3 separate regions of the Homo sapiens genome follow, and regions 1 and 3 are each linked to region 2. The links come from fine-mapping of genetic effects on gene expression. A gene starts in region 2. Each other region holds a variant in brackets. All regions are shown on one strand. Distances are from middle to middle.

Region 1 (6,807 bases), 190 kb before region 2:
AATAGCAGTTAATATGTCACTTGTTCTTTTTCTCACAAAAGGTAATTCATCTCTATTCTCCCTGCCTTCCATAAGTAAAATTTTGGTTTCTTCTACGACCTACATATTAACCAGGGGTCATGTATATCAGACAAATAAACACAGTCTCTGCTTACTTACTGAGTCCAAAGGCAGGCTGGGAAGAAGTGAGTATGTCCCTGAGAGCCCTGTTTCATTTTGGGATCAACTCAATTTAGTTTCTTGGTAAATCTGGAATTAATTTATGGATTTAGAAATAAACAAAGGAAGACATTTAGATGGCCGCTGCCGTCCTGAATCCGGTTTAGAGTACCACTAGAAAACACAATTAACCCCAAAATTTTTTCCCACTTGGTAGAGGATTACCGGAAACAGGTAGAGACATAATTTCATACACAATTCCATGTAGGCAATACCCAGGAATGGAGACAGAAGGTGTGCTGTTGCCTAATCACCACGTTTATGCTCTGTACTGAGTGTAGATTTATAGACCTCGTCAGACAGAGAAACAATGACTGGAAAAATACATGGTCCCTTGTAAAAGCAGTTGTCTACCATTTAATCTTGATGGAAAGAAATTTGTTCCTATGCTAATTTCTCATTAAGGAAATTGAACTGTCTATTTCTATGGATAGAAATACATATAGAGGTATCAAGGCTAAAAGCAAAAAACATCAGGTATGAGATCAGATGTGTAAAGAAGGATAGAGAAGGCAACCTGAAATTATTGAGAGCTCCACAATAGCTTTCTTCTTGAGTTTCCTGTATTCGCAGCCTGAGAAAAGCACCTTCCCCATTCTAGCTTCTGACACTCCACCCTTGTTTTTCCAAACTCAACACGGCTGTGGATGTCAATACTAGGTTCATCTATCCGGGTACTACAGTTTATTTAAAATGTGCAGGAAGCAGCCAGGCGCAGTGGCTTGCGCCTGTAATCTCAGCACTTTGGGAGGCCAAGGCGGGCGGATCATCTGAGGTCAGGGGTTTGAAACCAGCCTGGCCAACGTGGCGAAACCCTGTCTCTACTAAAAATACAAAATTAGCCTGGCGTGGTGGCGCATGCCTGTAATCCCAGCTACTTGGGAGGCTGAGGCAGGAGAATCGCTTGAACCCGGGAGGCGGAGGTTGCAGTGAGCCGAGATCATGCCATTGCACTCCATCCTGGACAACAAGAGTGAAACTCCATCTCAAAAAAAAAAAAAAAAAGTGCCGGAAACTCAAAGAACCTATGAAAGGCCAGAAAGTCGGTGAGGTTTGTTTATTGTGTAACCACAAACATCACCAAAACCACAGAGAGGACTGCTCAACCTATGATGCCACTGAGCAGACACAATATTTGACATAAACACTACAGTTTGAACAGGTGACACTGGGGACCAGATATTAGAATATCTGCTGCTGCTCCTGCTCCTGCTGGTGCTGCTGCTGCTGGGAGACATCTCTACTGCCATTCTCACCAAAAGGAGGATTTTACATACTTCTGGTTCCTCACTTACCCACTTGCAAAATGATGTTCTATACAGGTGTGCCTGACTGGCAAAGGCTAGGTCTCATGTCTGTGCCTTAACTGCACTGGATCCTTGAAAATGGAGCTTTGGCTTCAACTTGGAGAAGCAAAATTTATAACGTGGGAAATTCTCCAAACATGGGAATATTGTTCAAAAGATGCTAGGTGGCCATAAAAATAAATGAACACTGTATATACTACTGTGGAGTTATCAGAATTTAATTGCTAAAGTATAGTTTCTAAAAAGCTGAGAGCAAATATACAACGAACGCATCGAAGTTTAACTCATTAATTAATAAGGGATCAGTAAGATTAAAGTCAGTTCAAATAAGAATTTGAGGCCGGGCATGGTGGCTCATGCCTGTAATCCCAGCACTCTGGGAAGCCGAGGTGGGTGGATCACCTGAGGTCAGGAGTTCGAGACCGGCCTGGCCAACACGGTGAAACCCTGTATCTACTAAAAATGCAAAAATTAGCTGGGTGTGGTGGTGTGCATTTGTAATCTCAGCTACTGGGGAGGCTGAGGCAGGAGAATCGCTTAAATCCGGGAGGCGGAGGTTAGAGTGAGCTGAGATCGCACCACTGCACTCCAGCGTGGGCGATGAAGTAAGGCCGTGTCTCAAAAAAAAAAAAAAAAGAATTCGACTGACAGAGATCTACATTCTCTATTTCTCTATTCAGTGAAATCTACAATACAAAATTTATTTGCATTGCCATGTATAGGGATCATTTGCATAGTTATCAGTTTTTTACAACTTAACTCTAAAAAGAATCAAACAATTCCTGTAAAGGTCCACTAAATAATACCCAGCACATCACTGAAAGGACACCTGCTAATGTCTTTCGCCTGAATAATTTTTCTTAATAAAATGTTAAGTGATTGACTAAAACAAAAAAAATGCTAAGTGAAAAAAACAAGATAGAGAAAAATATGTGTAATATGTTAGTGTTCACTTAAGATGAAAGAATATTAATATATAGGCATATTTGCATATTTCTAAAAATAGGAAGATAAACCATAAATTTTTTAAATGATTACCAATTAAGGAAAAAAGGAAATCGTGTAAAACAGACAAAAGTAGAGGCTAGAGTTCTTTGAATATACCTCATTGTGATGATTTCACTTTGGATCCACATAAATGTTTTACATAATTATAAAATGAAATTACATAAGTGTAAAAAGCAAGCCCTAAAAGGAAGAAGTGAAATGAAACAAATAAACCTGTGTATGGAGGTGGAGCATAACCATACAGGGAACTATTCCAGGTGACTTCAAAACACAGTAATTGACTTACATCGTTAGCGACATTTGGCTTAATGGAGAAAAACCTGTCCCCCTCCACTTTAAAACCTCTAATTTGTTTTCATTAACAATCTTATTGGCGTAGGCTTGTTGTTGTTATTCTGCAATTTTACAGGATAAATTAAACAAGTACTTGAGTTGATATTTTAGAGAACCCAGATTTTTTAAGCATGTTTGAAAAGAAGTGCAGATATAAGATTGATGGGGTGAGTAAACCCTATAGTCTTGAATTTGAATTTGAAGTATCAGTGTCAGCTTGTGATTTATTTAATTTTTTTAAAAAAGATATTTCTTAGCTCTAGCTACTGAAAAGGCTTAGCAACAATGGTCAATCTGCTATCCCAAACACTGCTAGTTCCTAGATTATGGTATTTAAACATTGTTTCCACTAAAAGGAACCAGAGCTCCTTGGAGAAATGGCTGATTCCAGGTCTGGGGCAGGAATTGTTCAAGACAAACCTGCAATAGCCTGTCATATTAGAAAGAAAGGAAGCTTTTAAAGAGTACTAATATTATGCCAAATATACAAACTCTGTCTGCACCAAAGAGCCAGTTTGAATAAATTCCTACAGACCAAAAATGAGACAATATGAGTATCAATAAGGATAAAACTGGAATGGATTGAAACACATCAAATATGTTTAAATCCATGAATTCATAATGATATAAACATAACTCAATGGTTTCACAATATATGGAGCTTATTTAAATCTCAATTCAAACAAACTATTAAAAAATGTATAAGACAGTCCAGAAAATGTGAACATTGATAGGATGTCTGATGACATTAAGAAATTATTGTCTTAATTTCTTATGACAATAAAGTGGCTCACACCTGTAAACCCAGTACTTAGGGAGGCTGAGGTGGGCAGATTACCTATGGTCAGGAGTTCGAGACAAGCCTGGCCAATGTGGTGAAACCCCATCTCTACTAAAAATACAAAAATTAGCTGGGTGTGATGGCACATGCCTGTAATCCCAGCCACTTGGGAGGCTGAGGCAGGAGAATCGCTTGAACTCGGCAGGCAGAGATTGCAGTGAGCTGGGATCACACCACTGCACTCCAGCCTGGGCAAGTGAGTGAGACTCTGTCTCAGAAAAAAAAAAAAAAGAAAATTATTGTTCATTTATTTTAGATGTGATGATGGTATTGTGGTATTATATTTGTTTAATAGTCTCTGTCTTTTAAAGACACACACAGGGACATTTACGTATGAAATGACAGAATGTCTAGAATTTATTTAATATAATTCAGGTAGTGAGAGTGGGAATATAAATAAAATAAGATTGGCCATGTACTGATCATTGTTGAAACAAGACAATGGTTTCACGGCAGCTCATTTTACTACTATTTTTACTTTTACATGTGTTTTAAATTTTCCATAAGCAGTATCTTTTTAAAAAAAACTGTATGGCTACAAACACAAACATGTCTACTACAGCTGAGATGAATCAACATTATAATGATGTTACTTCTCCCTAAATTTATGCATATATTCAAATAAAAACTCTAATAGCCAGATGTGGGGGCTCATGCCTGTAATCCCAGCACTTCAGGAGGCCAAGGTGGGCAGATTGCTTGAGCCCAGGAGTTTGAGGCCAGCCTGGGCAACATGGTGAAACCCCTTATCTACAAAAAACAAAAAACAAAATCAGCCAGGCATGGTGGTGTGCACCTGTAGTCCCAGCCACTCCAGAGGCTGAGG[C/T]GGGAGGATCACTTGAGCCCAGGAGGTCAAGGCTGCAGTGAGCCATGATTGCATCACTGCACTCCAGCCTGGGTGACAGAATGAAACCCTGTCTCCAAAAGAAAAAAGCAAAAAACTCCAACAGAGTTTTTCAGGGAACTTGATAAACTGATTCAAAAAATTCATATAAAGAAGAGTTAACAAGTACAAAATACAAAGACAATGTTTAAAAAGAAGAACAAAGATAGGGTGGCCTAGATGACTTGCCTTACCATACGTGGAGACATATTACAAAGCTGTTTTAATTAAAACTGTGTGATACTGAAGTAGCAAAAGATAAAAAGAACAGCTTCATGAGCTCAGAAACTGACCTATCTATGTATGAGAATTTGGTGTACAATAGAGGTAGAATCAAAATTGGAAAACAAAGAAAATAAGCTCCCTACGTCATACCATACACAAAACTAAATTCCAGGTGAATTAAACACCTAAAAGCAGTAGCCATAGAAAAGATAAATAAAACACTCTCTGAAAGTATAAAAATAAGATGAGTGTATCTTTATTACATTTGGATGAGGAAAATTTTCTTATACAAAAACAGTATAGATTGATTATACGGAAAAGCTGAATAAAATGTTCTACCTCAACATAAAAAAATTTCATATAGAAAAACTCACTATAAACAAGACTAAAGGACAAGTGGAATTTCATAGGCTTATGCAAAGGAAGAAAAAATAAAATAAAAGACAAGTGGAAGACTAAGGGAGGATGTTTTTAAGGGTATATAACTGTCAAAGATTAGAAGCCAGAATATATTTTTAAAACACATACACCTTGGCCGGGCACGGTGGCTCACACCTGTAATCCCAGCACTTTGGGAGGCTGAGGCGGGTGGATCACGAGGTGAAGAGTTCAAGACCAGCCTGGCCAAGATGGTGAAACCCTGTCTCTACTAAAAATACAAAAATTAGCTGGACATGCTGGCAGGTGCCTGTAATCCCAGCTACTTGGGAGTCTGAGGCAGAGAATCGCTTGAACCTGGGAGGTGGATGTTGCAGTGAGCCAAGATCGCACCAATGCACTCCAGCATGGGAGACAAAGCACGACTCCGTCTCGGAAAACACACAACACACACACACACACACACCTCCCACAAATCACTAAGAAAATGCAACAATACAATAGAAAAATGAGCAAAAAAGATGAACAGGAAATTCACAGAAAATTCAAACGGTCAATAAATGTGTGAAAAGATCCTCAACCTCATTAGTAATTAGGAAAATGCAAATTTAAAAGATGATAGTTCGTCTTGCTCCCACCCCACCCAGGTAATCATTCTCAATTGGATATATTTGAGTGTATCCTTTTTTCCATGAATATACTAACACATACACACACACACACACACACACACGCATATTACTAAACTATACATATAGTATATATTAATAAAGACATTTTGAGTTTGATGAACGAAGGAATGGCTGAGTGAGAACCAGACAATATCAGATCATGAATGAGTTGTGTTAAAAGCAGTAAGACAGGTTTTCCTAGGAAATCATACAAGGAGCTGGGATTTGGGGAGCTTTATCTAAATCTCTTTATAACTAAATGTTTTCCATGTAAAAGTTGGTGTTTTTAAAATTCAATTTAATTTTTTTTTTGAGATAGGGTCTTGATATGTCATCCAGGCTGAAACACAGTGGCATAATCATGGCTCACTGCAGCCTTGTCCTCCTAGACTCAAGCAATTCTCCCACCTCACCCTCCCCCTCAGCTGGGACTACAAGCATGCACCACCATGCCCAGCTAATTAAAAAAAATTTTTTTGCAGAGACAGGGTCTCACTATATTGCCTAGGCTGGTCTTGAACTCCTGGCCTCAAGTGATCCTCCCGCCTCAGCCTCCCAAAGTGCTGGGATTATAGGCATGAGCCACTGGGCTCAGACAAGGGCTCTTCTTGATGGCTTACTGTATCCACTTTGTCCCCAAGACCATAGGGAAATGACTAGAGGTGACTGTACTAGCTAGATTTTAAATGAAACTGAAATGAAAGTTCACTTCCTCATTTTGAGTACCTCATGTGACAAGTTCCAATTTCTTTTCAAGTCAATTGAACTGAAATCTCCTTGTTGCTTTGAAATCTTAGAAGAGAGCCCACTAATTCAAGGACTCTTACTGTGGGAGCAACTGCTGGTTCTATCACGTATGTACTCTTTGTTCTTTTTCTCCCATTTGGTCTTCAAACACTCTGTGTTTGTAACTTGTTCTGCCTGCTAGGTTTTAAATCTTTG
Region 2 (8,779 bases):
CAGGCGCCTGTAGTCCCAGCTACTCGGGAGGCTGAGGCAGAAGAATGGCGTGAACCCGGGAGACGGAGCTTGCAGTGAGCCGAGATAGCGCCATGGCAGTCCGGCCTGGGTGAAAGAGCAAGACTCTGTCTCAAAAAAAAAAAAAAAATACAAAAATTAGCTGGGTGTAATGGCACGCGCCTGTAGTCCCAGCTATTCAGGAGGCTGAGGCCGAATTGCTTGAACCTGGGTGGTGGAAGTTGCAGTGAGCCAAGACCGCGCCATTGCACTCCAACCTGGGCGGCAGAGCAAGGCTCCATCTCAAAAAAAAAAAAAAAAAAAAAAAAAAAAGGCCGGGCGCAGCGGCTCACATTTGTAATCCCAGCACTTTGGGAGGCTGAGGCAGGTGGATCACAAGGTCAGGAGTTTGAGACCGGCCTGGCTAACATAGTGAAACCCTGTCTCTACTAAAAATACAAAAATTAGCCGGGCATGGTGGTGCGCACCTGTAGTCCCAGCTACTTGGGAGGCTGAGGCAGGAGAAACGGTTGAACCCAGGAGGTGGAGGTTGTGGTGAGCCGAGATTGTGCCACTCCACTCCAGCCTGGGCAACAGAGCAAGACTCCGTCTCAAAAAAAAAATAAGTAAAATAAAATAAAATAAAATGTATTTGAAACTGGGTGTGGTGGCTCATGCTTATAATCCCAGCTATTCAAGAGGCTCAGGTGGGAGGATCCCTTGAGGACAGGAGTTGTAGACCATCCTGGATAACATAGCAAGACTTTGTTACTTTCTTTCTTTTTTTTTTTTTGAGACAGAGTCTCGTTCTGTTGCCCAGGCTGGAGTGCAGTGGCACGATCTCGGCTCACTGAAAGCTCTGCCTCCCGGATTCATGCCATTCTCCTGCCTCAGCCTCCTGAGTAGCTGGGACTATAGGCACCCGCCACCATGCCCAGCTAATTTTTCGTATTTTTTTTTTAGTAGAGACGGGGTTTCACCGTGTTGGCCAGGATGGTCTTGATCTCCTGACCTCGTGATCTGCCCGCCTCAGCCTCCCAAAGTGCTGGGATTACAGGCGTGAGCCACCGTGCCCGACCAAGACTTGTTTCCTAACAAACAGGGCCAGTTGCAATGGCTCATGCCTATAATCCTAGCACTTTGGGAGGCCAAGGAGGGCAGATGGCTTGAGGCCAGGAGTTCGAGATTGGCCTGGACAACATGGTGAAACCCCATCTCTACAAAAAAACACAAAAATTAGCCAGGCATGGTGGTGCTGGCCTGTTGTCCCAGCTACTTGGGAAGCTGAGGTAGGAGTATCACTTTAGCTCAGGAGGTCAAGGTTGCAGTGAGCCGAGACTGCACCACTGCACTCCAGCCTGAGCAACATGGTGATACCCGTCTCAAAAAATAATAATAACAAATAATGAATAAATGCAATTTATTTTAAAGTGAAACTTGCATTTCCTTTTTTAGCCTCTGTACAAGGAAAAATCATTGCTCCTCCTATTTCCTCAATCTCTTTCCACTTTACCACCTGATAAAATTTTACTTTATAAAGCATGAGAGCAAAGCTACCTCCTCCATAACACTTTCCTCTAGCTCTCTCAGCCCAAAGTGAATTTCCCAACCTCTTAACTCCAAAATGAAGTTGTTAATGCCTTGTGTAGAGCATACATTCCATCTCACATTATGGTTAGTTGCTGTACAAGATTAGACATTCCTTAAATAGAGAAACTATTTCTTATTCACTATAACCACAAAATGCTCTATCCTTGCCACTCATACTATAAACCCCTATGGTTCTAGGTCCTGCCCAAAACATAAATGGGTGGTATGGACGCCGTATCACCTTACTAAACTGTGACATTTTGGGGATTAGGAACTTTTGGCCAAGAGGGAGACTCACGCCTATAATTCCAACACTTTATTTATTTATTTATTTTTGAGATGGCGTTTCGCTCTTGTTGTCCAGGCTGGAGTGCAATGGCGCACTCTCAGCTCACCGCAACCTCCGCCTCCCAGGTTCAAGCGATTCTCCCGCCTCAGCCTTCCAAGTAGCTGGGATTACAGGCACGTGCCACCACGGCCCGGCTAATTTTGTATTTTTAGTAGAGATGGAGTTTCTCCATGTTGGTTGGGCTGGTCTCAAACTCCTGACCTCAGATGATTCGCCCGCCTTGGCCTCCCAAAGTGCTGGGATTGCAGGTGTGAGCCACTGCGCCAGGCCTCATTATTATTATTATTTTTTTTGAGACCAAGTCTTGCTCTGTTGCCCAGGCTGGAGTGCAGTGGCACTATCTTGGCTCACCGCAACCTCCGTCTCTTGGGTTCAAGCAGTTCTCCTGTCTCAGCCTCCAGAGTAGCTGGTATTACAGATGCGCACCACCACACCCATCTAATTTTTGTGTTTTTAGTAGAGACAGGGTTTCGCCATGTTTCCCAGGCTGGTCTCAAACTCCTGGGCTCAAGCGATCCACCCACCTCAGCCTCCCAAAGTGCTGGGATTATTGGCATGAGGCACAGAGCCCGGTCTGTAATCCCAACACTTTGGGAGGCCAAGGTAGGAGGATCACCTGAGTCCAGGAGTTCAAGACCGGCCTGGGCAAAATAGTGATACCCCATCTCTACAAGAAATAAAAAAATTAGCCAAGTATAGGGGCATGCACCTGTGTTCCTCGCTACTCGCGAGGCTGTGGTGGGAGGATCACTTCAGCCCAGGAGGTTGAGGCAGCAATGAGCACTGATGGTGCCACTGCACTCCAGCCTGGGTGACAGGGCAAGACCTCATCTCAAAAAAATAAATAAAAAGTGAGCTTGCTCACCTTTCCTATGTCTCTCAGCACCTTGCTTTTGAATTTTAGCTATTATTTTTACAGATCTTTTAACAAAAAGGCTGCTTTAATTAACGTTAACTAACATACATGGCATATAAGAAGATCCTTGTTCTCAAGGGCTTTACAAACCTCTAGAGTCAAATGTGCCTTATTATCAGTACAAAAATAAATGGTGTCAGCTGGGTGCAGTGACTCACACCTGTAATCCCAGCACTTTAAGAGGCTGAGGCAGGTGGATCACCTGAGGCCAGGAGTTTGAGACCAGCCTGGCCAACATGGTGAAACCACATTGTCAGGCCTCTGAGCCCAAGCCAAGCCATCGCATCCCCTGTGACTTGCACGTATACATCCAGATGGCCTGAAGTAACTGAAGATCCACAAAAGAAGTAAAAATAGCCTTAACTGATGACATTCCACCATTGTGATTTGTTTCTGCCCCACCCGAACTGATCAATGTACTTTGTAATCTCCCCCACCCTTAAGAAGGTTCTTTGTAATTCTCCCCACCCTTGAGAATGTACTTTGTGAGATCCACCCCTGCCCACAAAACATTGCTCTCAACTTCACCACCTATCCCAAAACCTGTAAGAACTAATGATAATCCATCACCCTTTGCTGACTCTCTTTTCGGACTCAGCCCGCCTGCACCCAGGTGAAATAAACAGCCATGTTGCTCACACAAAGCCTGTTTGGTGGTGTCTTCACACAGACGCGCATGAAACACATCTCTACTAAAAATACAATAATCAGCTGGGCGAGGTGGCTCACAGCTGTAATCTCAGCACTTTGGGAGGCCGAGACAGGCAGGTCACTTGAGGCCATGAGTTCGAGACCAGCCTGGCCAACATCGTGAAAACCCCATCTCTACCAAAAATACAAAAACTAGCCAGATGTGGTGGCGCACGCCTGTAATCCCAGCTACTCGGGAGGCTGAGGTACCGAATCGTCTGAACGTGGGAAGTGGAGCTTGTAGTGAGCCGAGATCGCCCCACTGCACTCCAGCCTGGGCAACAGAGCTAGACTGTCTCAAAACAAACAAAAAATGGTGTCAAGACTCTCAGACGAGATTCTAATGGATTAAGGCCTATATGTAAATAGCACCAAAGACTATGGAACAGAGATGGGAGAAGCAAGCAGGGAGGCAGGAATAGTTTAGCTGTGGCAGTTTTAGCTTAGTCCACTTACATAAATGGTTCTTTAGGGTAGCACGTGGAGCATCCTCATTTCCAAACATTGGACTGAGAGTAGAGAGCTGTGCAAAATAACCACAAGTCCCCAACTATGCCCTCTTAATTATCCCTATCATCTAAGACTGTTGTTCCCATCCATCACTGAACTTCCCCGTCCTCTTCCTTCAACCCCTGTGTTAGTCAATGGTTGAAATTTTGATTTGGTAAAAAACCTCTGGCGAAAACCAGCAAAAAGGGCTCACAAATCAGGTCTCAGGGAAGCACAGAGGTAGCCACGAGAAGGCCCGAGGTGCTCATGGAAAGAGCTCGAGCCCAGGAGCTCTGGGAGGACCCCAGGCGCTCGGAGCCGCCGTTACGTAACCGGCACTCAGAGCCTCCGAAGACCGGAAGGCCCCGCTCAGGCCCCGGCTCAGGCCCCGGCCCCGGCCCCGGCCCCGGCCCCGCCCCGGCCCGGCCGGGCAGCTGGTAGGTGCCGTGCGCAACCCTCCGGAAGCTGCCGCCCCTTTCCCCTTTTATGGGAATACTTTTTTTAAAAAAAAAGAGTTCGCTGGCGCCACCCCGTAGGACTGGCCGCCCTAAAACCGTGATAAAGGAGCTGCTCGCCACTTCTCACTTCCGCTTCCTTCCAGTAAGGAGTCGGGGTCTTCCCCAGTTTTCTCAGCCAGGCGGCGGCGGCGACTGGCAATGTTTGGCCTCAAAAGAAACGCGGTAATCGGACTCAACCTCTACTGTGGGGGGGCCGGCTTGGGGGCCGGCAGCGGCGGCGCCACCCGCCCGGGAGGGCGACTTTTGGCTACGGAGAAGGAGGCCTCGGCCCGGCGAGAGATAGGGGGAGGGGAGGCCGGCGCGGTGATTGGCGGAAGCGCCGGCGCAAGCCCCCCGTCCACCCTCACGCCAGACTCCCGGAGGGTCGCGCGGCCGCCGCCCATTGGCGCCGAGGTCCCCGACGTCACCGCGACCCCCGCGAGGCTGCTTTTCTTCGCGCCCACCCGCCGCGCGGCGCCGCTTGAGGAGATGGAAGCCCCGGCCGCTGACGCCATCATGTCGCCCGAAGAGGAGCTGGACGGGTACGAGCCGGAGCCTCTCGGGAAGCGGCCGGCTGTCCTGCCGCTGCTGGAGTTGGTCGGGGAATCTGGTAATAACACCAGTACGGACGGGTCACTACCCTCGACGCCGCCGCCAGCAGAGGAGGAGGAGGACGAGTTGTACCGGCAGTCGCTGGAGATTATCTCTCGGTACCTTCGGGAGCAGGCCACCGGCGCCAAGGACACAAAGCCAATGGGCAGGTCTGGGGCCACCAGCAGGAAGGCGCTGGAGACCTTACGACGGGTTGGGGATGGCGTGCAGCGCAACCACGAGACGGCCTTCCAAGGTAAGGGGGTTCATTAATCGCCAAGGCCTCACTCCCTTTTTTCCATCTCTCCCCGGACTCACCCGCCAAGGGTGGGTTGGAAACCGAAACGAGTCAGTGTTGAAACGTGTCTCATCCTATTCCTGAAGCCAGAATATTCTGGCCATGAGTCATTGTTTCCGCCCATCTTGATTCTTTTGGAAATGGCAGCTCTTGTTCAAAGACCGGAAAGGGTGGGATGTCAATTTCAAGTGGGGTCAACCTGAGTTCTGTAAATCCCAGTAGCGATTTTCCCGCCGCGGGTGGGCAGGCGAATCTTGCGCCGGTTTAGACAAAGGAGGCCGTGAGGACCTGCATGCTTTTCTTTCTCAGGCATGCTTCGGAAACTGGACATCAAAAACGAAGACGATGTGAAATCGTTGTCTCGAGTGATGATCCATGTTTTCAGCGACGGCGTAACAAACTGGGGCAGGATTGTGACTCTCATTTCTTTTGGTGCCTTTGTGGCTAAACACTTGAAGACCATAAACCAAGAAAGCTGCATCGAACCATTAGCAGAAAGTATCACAGACGTTCTCGTAAGGACAAAACGGGACTGGCTAGTTAAACAAAGAGGCTGGGTAAGTTTGCCTTAAGGATGAAAGGGGCCTTGGAGTGGAAGTAGAATGAAGGATTTTTTTTAGAGAGGTGGGGATATCTAAAGGTTTTTATGACGCACGGCTGTTTGCAGGCTCTAACTAAAGGACCATTGTTTATTTGATGTTGATTTAAGTAGTGGATCCTTAGAGATAGTGGTATGGCGGTCTTGAATTGTATCAAAAATCTTGGTTTTCTCTAGGCAATTTTTTGTTCCAATTCAGTTGAATACTCTTCAGTGGATTCAAACCATGAAAAAATAAGTCACCAGGGGAGGATAGCTGAAATAATTCCTAAGGCGGTGCCTGTTTTAATGGAGAAGATATGGGGTGGAGCCTGCGTTTTAAACAAACCCAGATCTGATGCAGGATGTACTTAACTACGTTGAGAAAAACTGATCTGCGCAATTGAGGCGTTACTGAAATATTAGGTGGTGGAGATTTGAGAATAAGGGTTTTCGTCTTTTACCTCATGGGAACTCTGGAAGTCCTTTTGTTAGGATAAATCCTAATAAGACCAAGATAGTACTGTAAAATGAAGTTTAATTATCATGGGTCCCCGCTTAAGAAACTGAAGAACTTATTTTCTTTTTTTGCCCCGGGGTGAATAATAATTGGTTTACTATTGCTTTAGGGGGAAACCTTAGATATTTTAATTTACCTTCTCTCTGGATAGTAGTGTTGTAAGAGAGCAGAAACCCATACTTGAAAATGTGCTTTTCTTTTTTGTTTTCTAGGATGGGTTTGTGGAGTTCTTCCATGTAGAGGACCTAGAAGGTGGCATCAGGAATGTGCTGCTGGCTTTTGCAGGTGTTGCTGGAGTAGGAGCTGGTTTGGCATATCTAATAAGATAGCCTTACTGTAAGTGCAATAGTTGACTTTTAACCAACCACCACCACCACCAAAACCAGTTTATGCAGTTGGACTCCAAGCTGTAACTTCCTAGAGTTGCACCCTAGCAACCTAGCCAGAAAAGCAAGTGGCAAGAGGATTATGGCTAACAAGAATAAATACATGGGAAGAGTGCTCCCCATTGATTGAAGAGTCACTGTCTGAAAGAAGCAAAGTTCAGTTTCAGCAACAAACAAACTTTGTTTGGGAAGCTATGGAGGAGGACTTTTAGATTTAGTGAAGATGGTAGGGTGGAAAGACTTAATTTCCTTGTTGAGAACAGGAAAGTGGCCAGTAGCCAGGCAAGTCATAGAATTGATTACCCGCCGAATTCATTAATTTACTGTAGTGTTAAGAGAAGCACTAAGAATGCCAGTGACCTGTGTAAAAGTTACAAGTAATAGAACTATGACTGTAAGCCTCAGTACTGTACAAGGGAAGCTTTTCCTCTCTCTAATTAGCTTTCCCAGTATACTTCTTAGAAAGTCCAAGTGTTCAGGACTTTTATACCTGTTATACTTTGGCTTGGTTTCCATGATTCTTACTTTATTAGCCTAGTTTATCACCAATAATACTTGACGGAAGGCTCAGTAATTAGTTATGAATATGGATATCCTCAATTCTTAAGACAGCTTGTAAATGTATTTGTAAAAATTGTATATATTTTTACAGAAAGTCTATTTCTTTGAAACGAAGGAAGTATCGAATTTACATTAGTTTTTTTCATACCCTTTTGAACTTTGCAACTTCCGTAATTAGGAACCTGTTTCTTACAGCTTTTCTATGCTAAACTTTGTTCTGTTCAGTTCTAGAGTGTATACAGAACGAATTGATGTGTAACTGTATGCAGACTGGTTGTAGTGGAACAAATCTGATAACTATGCAGGTTTAAATTTTCTTATCTGATTTTGGTAAGTATTCCTTAGGTTTTTCTTTGAAAACCTGGGATTGAGAGGTTGATGAATGGAAATTCTTTCACTTCATTATATGCAAGTTTTCAATAATTAGGTCTAAGTGGAGTTTTAAGGTTACTGATGACTTACAAATAATGGGCTCTGATTGGGCAATACTCATTTGAGTTCCTTCCATTTGACCTAATTTAACTGGTGAAATTTAAAGTGAATTCATGGGCTCATCTTTAAAGCTTTTACTAAAAGATTTTCAGCTGAATGGAACTCATTAGCTGTGTGCATATAAAAAGATCACATCAGGTGGATGGAGAGACATTTGATCCCTTGTTTGCTTAATAAATTATAAAATGATGGCTTGGAAAAGCAGGCTAGTCTAACCATGGTGCTATTATTAGGCTTGCTTGTTACACACACAGGTCTAAGCCTAGTATGTCAATAAAGCAAATACTTACTGTTTTGTTTCTATTAATGATTCCCAAACCTTGTTGCAAGTTTTTGCATTGGCATCTTTGGATTTCAGTCTTGATGTTTGTTCTATCAGACTTAACCTTTTATTTCCTGTCCTTCCTTGAAATTGCTGATTGTTCTGCTCCCTCTACAGATATTTATATCAATTCCTACAGCTTTCCCCTGCCATCCCTGAACTCTTTCTAGCCCTTTTAGATTTTGGCACTGTGAAACCCCTGCTGGAAACCTGAGTGACCCTCCCTCCCCACCAAGAGTCCACAGACCTTTCATCTTTCACGAACTTGATCCTGTTAGCAGGTGGTAATACCATGGGTGCTGTGACACTAACAGTCATTGAGAGGTGGGAGGAAGTCCCTTTTCCTTGGACTGGTATCTTTTCAACTATTGTTTTATCCTGTCTTTGGGGGCAATGTGTCAAAAGTCCCCTCAGGAATTTTCAGAGGAAAGAACATTTTATGAGGCTTTCTCTAAAGTTTCCTTTGTATAGGAGTATGCTCACTTAAATTTACAGAAAGAGGTG
Region 3 (8,779 bases), 31 kb before region 2:
GTTGAGGTTCTAACAGATTGGTACCATGAACATGTAATGGTACCAATCCATATCTTTGTGCTATTTTCTCTAGAAGCACCTAGCTCCCTGGGTACAAGAGCAGGGACGACATTATTGTTTAGATCCTGAGTCAGGATTTGTAGACAGATAAAGTATACTAAGAAGGAAGCAAGGGGATGAAAGTGCTGGTGAAAGATTAAAGAATCTCTCTGATTATAGCTAGATAAGAAAATAGGCTAAGGAAGTTGTGATAAACTGGTCAAGCCAGGCGCGGTGGCCCACACCTGTAATCCTAGCACTTTGGGAGGCTGGGGTGGGTGGATCATGAGGTCAGGTCAGGAGTTTGAGACCAGCCTGGCCAACATAGTGAAACTCCGTCTCTACTAAAAATACAAAAAATTAGCTGGGTGTGGTGGCGTGCGCCTGTAATCCCAGCTACCAGGGAGGCTGAGGCAGGAGAATCTCTTGAACCCGGGAGGCAGAGGTTGCAGTGAGGCAAGATTGCGCCATTGCACTCCAGCCTGGGCAACGAGCAAAACCCTGTCTCAAAAAAAAAAAAAAAAAAAAAAAAAAAAAAAAAAACCTCTGGTCAAGAGAATTCTTTGTTTCTTTCTCTATTATTTATTTATTTTTAAGAGAACTCTTTATAAGGTCAAAGAGCAGATGATTTAGAAGCAGAAATGATTAACCTGGAAGTTCAAAACATTGTAGCAAGAATATAAAATTTTAGATTGGAGCCAGGTGGTGGCTCATGCCTGTAATCCCAGCACTTTGGGAGGGGAAGATGGCTTGTGCCCAGGAGTTCGAGACCACCCTGGGCAACAAAATGAGACCCCCATCTCTACAAAAAAATTAAAAAATTAGCCATGCATGATGGCATGCACCTGTGGCCCCAGCTACGTGGGAGGCTGAGGCTGGAGGATAGCCTGAGTCCAGAAGGTGAAGGCTGCAGTGAGCTGTGTTTGCACCACTGCACTCCAGCCTGGGCAACAGAATGAGACTCTGTGTATAAATAAATAAAACTAAGAGAGTTCTCACATCGAGCTGTGAAGGTAGTTTGCTAATTTATCTGGGGTTTTGCTGTTATCTTTTGTTAAAAATCAACTTGCTGGGGTGAGGTGGCTCACATCTGTAATGCCATCACTTTGGGAGGCTGAAGGGGGAGGATCACTTGAGTACAGGAGTTTGAGACCAGCCTGGGCAATGTAAGGAGACCCTGTCTGAAAAATTAAAAAAAAATAGCCAGGCGTGTTGTCATGTGCCTGTAGTTCCAGCAATGGCAGGCTGAGGTGGGAGCATCGATTGGGCACAGGAGGTTGAGGCTGCAGTGAGCTGTGATTGCACTGCTGCACTCCAGCCTGGGCAACAGAGCAAGACCCTGTCTCAATAAATAAAATAAAGTAGCATCAAATTGATACATATCCTAGAGTAGTTATCTTTTTTTCCTCTGAGCTCCAACAAGAAACAACAGTATTTACATTTTTAACTGGAGACAAAACTCTGCATAGGAGAAATTCAAACATCAGCAGACATATGAGGGCGTTTTTTGGCAGAGGCAACTTACTGTCAATAAAGTCTCACCCCTGGTGAACGCCACCTGCTCACACGTACAAAAGGAAAGTCATTTAGTGATCATGAATCCTGGTTTGACGTTAAGGTCCATGTCTGAAGTGTCGTTTATGATTAGGGAAGTCTGAGTCATCCTTAGGCTTCCTCTATTGCATTTGAGTCATTTCCTTTTTTACAGACCCAAACTGTACAGCCCAGGATATTTCTTAAATGTCCAAAAGTACAGAGTTTTGGAACTAAAGGGACATTCGAGATCATTGAGTTCAGTGTACTCGTTTTACAAATGGTGAAACTAAGGCCAAGAGGAGCATGCCTTTGCCTGATTGCACAGCCTCTGTGGGGCAGTTTTGCCTATACCAAGAAGGGTATAGGAAAATACCCTATTCTCTAGAACCAGCTGATTTCACAGCAAATTTGGATTCTGGCTTGAATTTATTTTTGTCAGAAGTAAACTAAAAATACTTGGTCTGAAAGTCTGAGAGGGACTCAGGGCCCAGGGGAACAAGCAGGCATCTCTGGTATATCCCCCTCAAATAGTTTTTTGTTTGTTTGTTTTAGACAGAGTGTTGCTCTTGTTTCCCAGGCTGGAGAGCAATGGCGCAATCTCGGCTCACTGCAACCTCCACCTCCTAGATTCAAGCGATTCTCCTGCCGCAGCCTCCCAGGTAGCCATCACACCCAGCTAATTTTTTGTATTTTTAGTAGAGATGGGGTTTCATCATGTTGGCCAGGCTGGTCTCGAACTCCTGATCTCAGGTGATCCACCCACCTTGGCCTCCCAAAGTGTTGGGATTACAGGCGTGAGCCACCATGCCCGGCCCCCCTCAAATGGTTTTATCTGTCACACTGGTGCTCCTGCAATGGACAAAGGAGACGTTTCCTGTAGGACCAGCATCTCTTTACTCAGGTTTTTCAATCTTGGAACTGCTGACATTTTGGGCCAAGTAATTCTTTGTTGCAGGGACTGTCCTGTGCATTTCAGGATGTTTAACAGCATCTTTGTCCTCTACCCATTAGTTGCTTAGTCAGAATAATCAGAAAAGTCCCCAGACATTGCCAAATGCCCCCTGGAGTTGCCTGGTTGCCTGGTTGAGAATCACTATGCTTAAGAAAGGGGCTCTTGTTGTAATCCCAGCACTTTGGGAGGCCGAGGCGGGAGGATCACGAGGTCAGGAGATCGAGACCATCCTGGTTAACACAGTGAAACCCCATCTCTACTAAAAATACAAAAATTAGCTGGGCATGGTGGCATGCGTCTGTAGTCCCAGCTACTCGGGAGGCTGAGGCAGGAGAATGGCATGAACCCCGGGAGGTGGAGCTTGCAGTGAGCCGAGATCGCGCCACTGCACTCCAGCCTGCGTGACAGAGAGAGGCTCCATTTCAAAAAAAAAAAAAAAAAAAGCGGGGATGGGGGGCTGTTTTAACTCAGGTCTGGGCCCACTTAGTCCTCATGGCAGTATCTATTCTTATTCCTGCATCTCCATGCCTAGCTGCCTTTTTCTCACCTTTCTTTCTGGGGCTACCACACCTTTATCAGATGAGATCCTCCAACCTCTCTCTACCCTCAGTATCTCCAAAAGTGCCACCTGGGTTGAAAATGAGAAGCAAAAGCATCTACCCTTCCCCCTCTTGCACCAAGGGTATACCCTAATTAGATAGGAATTTACATAATTGGTAAAAATAAGATATCATGGGCTGGCCACAGTGGCTCACACCTGTAATGCCAGCATTTTGAGAGGCCGAGGCACGAGGAATTCTTCAGCCCAGGAGTTTGAGACCAGGCTGGGCGATGTAGTGAGACCTTGTCTCTACAAAAAAATTAAAAATTAACTGAGTGGTGGCAGGCGCCTGTAGTCCCAGCTACTCGGGAGGCTGAGGCAAGAGAATTGCTTGAACTTCGGAGGAAGAGGTTTAAGTAAGCAAAGATTACACCACCGCACTCCAGCCTGGGTGACAGAGCCAGACTCTGTCTCCAAAACAAAAGACAAAGTGCATACAAGGCTCAGCTCTTAACAATGACTGCTGTGAGTCAAGGAAAGACCCCTTCCTTGAGGGTGTGCTGGGAGGGGATAGATGAGGGCATACCAAGAGAACCTTTGCCTTTTTTGCGCAATTTCCCCTTGACTCAGCGGTCCCACTTCCCTTCCCCAGCCCACACTTGTCCTCACCAGTGCTTGTATTTAGAAATG[C/A]AAGCCCGTGTTGTCATAGAAAAACAGAAACCAGATGGTTGCTATGGAGATTTGTTTAAATACACACCTAGAACATGGCCCAGACTCTGGCAGTGGTGAGTAGCAATTCTTGCTAGGACCTGCATTTTTCTTCCTCTTAATTTGCTGTTTTCCCACCCTTTTCTATTCTTGCTACATTTTCATGCTTCTCACTCCTGCTCCAAAATGCCACTTCCCACCTACCAGTACTGTTCTTAAACATCTCCTGTGTCTCAGGAAGTCACTATTTAAGAACAGACTTATTTACCCTTTGAGCCTTAGTCCCTTCATCTGTAATATGGGAATAATGACAATAAAAACTCTATATGGGGCCAGGTGCAGTGGCTCAAGCATGTAATCCCAGCACTTTGGGAGGCCAAGACAGGTGGATCACTTGAGGTCAGGAGTTCAGGACCAGCCTGGCCAATGTGGTGAAAACCTGTCTCTACTAAAAATACAAAAATTAGCTGGGCGTGGTGGTGCACACCTGTAATCTCAGCTACTCGAGACGCTGAGGCAGGAGAATCGCTTGAACCCAGGAGGCAGAGGTTGTAGTGAGCTGAGATCGTGCCACTGCACCCCAGCTTGGGCAACAGAGCAAAACTCTGTCTTTAAAAAAAAAAAAACAAAAAAACCAAACAAACAAACAAAAAAAACCTTATATGGGCTGGGCTGGGCGTGGTGCCTTATGCCCACAATCCCAGCATTTTGGGAGGCCAAGATGGGAGGATCACTTGAGCCCAGAAGTTTGAGACCAGCCTAGGCTACAGAGTAAGGCCCCATCTCTACAAAAAAACCTTAAAAATTAGCCAGGTGTGGTGGCACGCACTGTGGTCCCAGCTGTACCAGAGGCTGAAGCAGGAGGATCCCTTGAGCCCAGGAGGTCAAGGCTGCAGTGAGCCATATCTACACCACTGCACTCCAGCCTGGGCAACAGCCTGTCTCAAAAACTAAACTAAAAACCTTATATGTTTTTGTTAGAATTAAATTAGATATACAAAAAGAGGGGCCGGGCAGGGTGGCTCACGCCTGTAATCCCAGCACTTTGGGAGGCTGAGGCAGGTGAATTACTTGAGGTCAGGAGTTCGAGACCAGCCTGACCAACATGGTGAAACCCTGTCTATACTAAAATATACAAAAATCAGTCTAGCGTGGTGGTGGGCGCCTGTAATCCCAGCTATTCGGGAGGCTGAGGCAGGAGAATTGCTCGATCCCGGGAGGCAGAGGTTGCAGTGAGCCGAGATCATGCCACTGCACTCCAGCCTGGGCGACAGAATGAGACTCCGTCTCAAAAAGAAACTTGTATCATGGCTAGCAAAGTGGAATTTGGTTTTATGCTAAAATAAAATCCTAGAGCCAGGTGTGGAGGCGAGTGCCTATAATCCCAGCTACTCAGAGGCTGAGGCAGGAGGATTTGTTGAGACCAGGAGTTCAAGACCAGCCTGGGCAACATAATAAGACCTCATCTCAAAAAAAAAATAATAAAGTAAAATAAAATAAAAATCCTACTCTAGGGCACCTGGGAACCAACCAGTGGTGCCTTTGGAAATCTTGGTTTATGCTTCCTCTCTGACAGTAGGAAAAAGCTATTGTGGGAGTTTCTCCTGCCATGTAGAGTGATGGAAGAGCAGAATTGTGGAGGAGCAGGGTTGCTTTGTTTTGTCTTTGTTGTACTCAGCTGGAAAGCTGTTTAAGGAAAGAATCTGGTCATATGACCTCCTTTCTGCAATTGGAAATGAACGCCACAGGGAAAAGAAGATATAAGACACAGAATGCTCCTTGCCTGGCTAAAATGGAAGAGGACAAAGGAAGCAGAATACTTTCTGGGCTTTTGGCTTTTGCTACCCTCCTCTGGCAGACCCCTGTCCAAGACGCTGGCTGTGTTGTGTGCCAGGCTAGAGCTTGTACCTACTGTAAAATCTGTGTGTGATGTCTGTTGAGTTTTTTGGAAAACAAAAAACTTATATTTTAAAATACAAGGTATTAGATAATACCAAGGGCAGATAATTCCACCCTTGGAAATAAAAAAGATTTTCTTTTCTTCAGCTTGAATGTACTGTACAGCTGTGTTTCTGCAGTAGGTCTCAGCTCTTAGGAACGAGAAAAAGGAAAACATTACCCACTTTGCATTTCACTTCTGTTCTTTTCCTGTGAGACAGATACTACTATCTATCCTATTTTTATGGGTTAAAAAGCACAGATCAATTGAAAAAGAACTGGAAGGATAACTGCTAAACTGAGAACTGTTACATCCAGGCACGTTGACTCACGCCTGTAATCCCAACACTTTGGGAAGCTGAGGCCGGTGGATCACGAGGTCAGGAGATCGAAACCATCCTGGCCAACATGGTGAAACCCCATCTCTACTAAAAATACAAAAATTAGCTGGGTGTGGTGGCGTGTGCCTTAATCCCAGCTACTCGGGAGGCTGAGGCACAAGAATCGCTTGAACCTAAGAGGCGGAGGTTTCAGTGAGCTGAGATCGCACCACTGCACTCCAGCCTGGCACCAGAGCAAGACTCTGTCTCAAAAAAAAAAAAAAAGAATTGTGGTCACTTCCAGAAAAGAATTAGGGGAGTGAGATTGGAAGTGGTAATCATAGGAACTTTTGTGTCATCTATATTTTCCTTTTTTCCAAGGAAAATATTCATATATTAATTGTTTAATTAAAAATTAAATTTTGGCTGGGCGCGGTGGCTCACGCCTGTAATCCCTGCACTTTGGGAGGCCGAGGTGGGCGGATCACGAGGTCAGGAGATCAAGACCATCCTGGCTAACATGGTGAAACCCCGTCTCTACTAAAAAATATGACAAAAATTAGCCGGGCGTGCTGTCGGGCGCCTGTAGTCTCAGCTACTCTGGAGGCTGAGGCAGGAGAATGGCGTGAACCCCGGAGGCGGAGCTTGTAGTAAGCCGAGATCTTGCCACTGCACTGCAGCCTGGGCGACAGAGCAAGACTCCGTCTCAAAAAAAAAAATTTTTTTTAAGTTTTGTGCAGTGGCAGTATCATAGCCAATGAGGTTTGTCCAATGTACAATTATTGCTAATTGAAAACGTTTCAGGCCAAGCACAGTGGCTCACGCCTATAATCCCAGCACTCTGGGAGGCCGAGACAGGCCAATCATGAGGTCAGGAGATCGAGACCATCCTGGCTAACACGGTGAAACCCCCGTCTCTACCAAAAATACAAAAATTAGCTGAGTGTGGTGGCAGGCGCCTGTTAGTCCCAGCTACTTGGCTGAGGCAGGAGAATGGTGTGAACTCAGGAGGCGGAGCTTTCAGTGAGCTGAGATCGCGCCACTGCACTCCAGCCTGGGCGACAGAGCGAGACTCTGTCTCAAAAAAAGTTTCAAGCCAGGCACGGTGGCTCACGCCTGTAATCCCAATACTTTGGGAGGCCAAGGCGGGTGGATCACCTGAGGTCAGGAGTTCGAGACCGGCACAGCCAACATGGCGAAACCCCATCTACTAAAAATACAGAAATTAGCCGGGTGTGGTGGCACACGCCTGTAATCTCAGCTATTCAGGAGGCTGAGGCAGAAGAATCACTTGAACCTGGGAGGTGGAGATTGCAGTGAGCCAAGATTGCACCACTGCACTCTAGCCTGGGCAACAGAGTGAGACTCCAGAGTTGAGACTCTGTCTCAAAAGAAAAAAAGAAAAGGTTTCTGTTGGGCCAGGCCCAGTGGCTCACACCTGTTATCCCAGCACTTTGGGAGGCCAAGGCAGGCAGATCCCTTGAGTCTAAGAGTTTTGAGACCAGCTTAGGCAACTTAGAGAGACCCCGTCTTTACAAAAAGTTAGCCAGACATGGTGGCACATGCCATGGAAGGCTCACTTGAGCCCGTGAAGTCGAGGTTGCAGTGAACTGTGATCTTGCCACTGCACTCCAGCCTGGGTGATGGAGTGAGACCATGTCTCAAAAAAAAAAAAAAAGAATTTTCACATATCCCACTGTGGTAACTTACAATATAGTTGGCATTGGCAATTTTTGACAGTCTCTACAGAGACTGACTTTAAAAAAAATAAATAAATTTCAGGCTGGGCATGGTGGCTCATGCCCACAATCCCAGCACTTTGGGAGGCCAAGGCGGGTAGATCACCTGAGGTCAGGAGATTGAGACCAGCCTGGTCAACATGGTAAAACCCTGTCTCTACTAAAAATACAAAAATTAGCTGGTGGTGACGCACACCTGTAATCCCAGCTACTCGGGAGGCTGAGGTAGGAGAATTGCTTGAACCCAGGAGGCAGGAGGTTGCAGTGAGCTGAGATTGTGGCATTGCACTTTAGGCTAGGCGACAAAAGGGAAACTCCGTCTCAAAAAATAAATAAATAAATTTCAAATTGAAAGGTGAGGCTATTTTATAATTTTTTTTTTTTTTAATTTGAGACAGAGTCTCAGTCTATCATCCAGGCTAGAGTGCAGTAGTGCAATCTCGGTTCAGTGCAACCTCCACCTCCCGGGTTCAAACAGTTCTATTCTACCTCAGCCTCCCAAGTAGCTGGGATTATGGGCACCCGCAACCACACCTGGCTTATTTTTGTATTTTTAGTAGAGATGGAGTTTCACCATGTTGGCCAAGCTGTCGAACTCCTGACCTCAAGTGATCTGCCCGCCTCAGCCTCCCAAAGGCTTATGCCCACAGGGTTGAGCCACGGCGCCCGGCCCTATTTTACAAAATTGTAATGAAGCTGAGAAAAGATAATTCATCTAAGATCACTTGATAAATGACAGACTCCAAAGCCCATGGCTACTTGACCAAATCACTTTGCTCTGTATACATCCGTATAGAGAACTAGGTTTGGAGCCAAGAGGGACTCCTGATTTATCCCTCTCATGGGCAGTAGGTTTGTTATAGTGAGCCCTTGGCCTTAGCTTGGTTTTCTTTATCAGTAAAGGAGAGCATGACCAGATCATGCCATACCAACTTGATGGCCTAGGCCTAGGGCTTGGCTTGTGAGGTGTGACTAAATCACATAGCCTCAGATAAGGAATGAGGGA

Which allele goes with the higher level. Alleles are on the strand shown, and positions count from the first base shown. SD is a standard deviation of normalised expression in the study named. Not every link is listed here.
For the expression in whole blood of the gene that starts at base 4,608 in region 2, allele C in region 1 goes with a higher level than allele T (small effect, 0.17 SD a copy in GTEx).

Evidence for each region. PIP is the estimated chance that this variant, and not a neighbour inherited with it, causes the effect.
Region 1: its variant is fine-mapped to the expression of MCL1 in whole blood (GTEx, PIP 0.96).
Region 3: its variant is fine-mapped to the expression of MCL1 in whole blood (TOPMed, PIP above 0.99).

The regions. Positions count from the first base shown.
Region 1 is chr1:150,765,610-150,772,416 of GRCh38, reverse strand. CTSS (cathepsin S) reads left to right here and starts at 6,639. Exons shown (of 8, transcript NM_004079.5): 1 at 6,639-6,719. RefSeq lists a silencer at 1,309-1,428, cis regulatory regions at 6,693, 6,696 and enhancers at 6,621-6,765, 6,624-6,768. The variant C/T (reference allele first, on the strand shown) is at 4,535.
Region 2 is chr1:150,575,439-150,584,217 of GRCh38, reverse strand. MCL1 (MCL1 apoptosis regulator, BCL2 family member) reads left to right here and starts at 4,608. Exons shown (of 3, transcript NM_021960.5): 1 at 4,608-5,375; 2 at 5,727-5,974; 3 at 6,727-8,779. The coding sequence starts at 4,688. The coding sequence ends at 6,843. It overlaps LOC107985203 (a long non-coding RNA gene), which reads right to left and starts at 4,388. Exons shown (of 3, transcript NR_186818.1): 1 at 3,999-4,388. RefSeq lists silencers at 4,298-4,637, 4,708-4,837 and enhancers at 4,411-4,705, 4,754-5,471, 5,472-6,190, 5,151-6,350.
Region 3 is chr1:150,606,607-150,615,385 of GRCh38, reverse strand. No RefSeq gene overlaps it. Among named protein-coding and RNA genes, the nearest start is that of ENSA, 19 kb to the left of the region's middle. RefSeq lists enhancers at 3,599-3,893, 6,234-6,920. The variant C/A (reference allele first, on the strand shown) is at 3,759.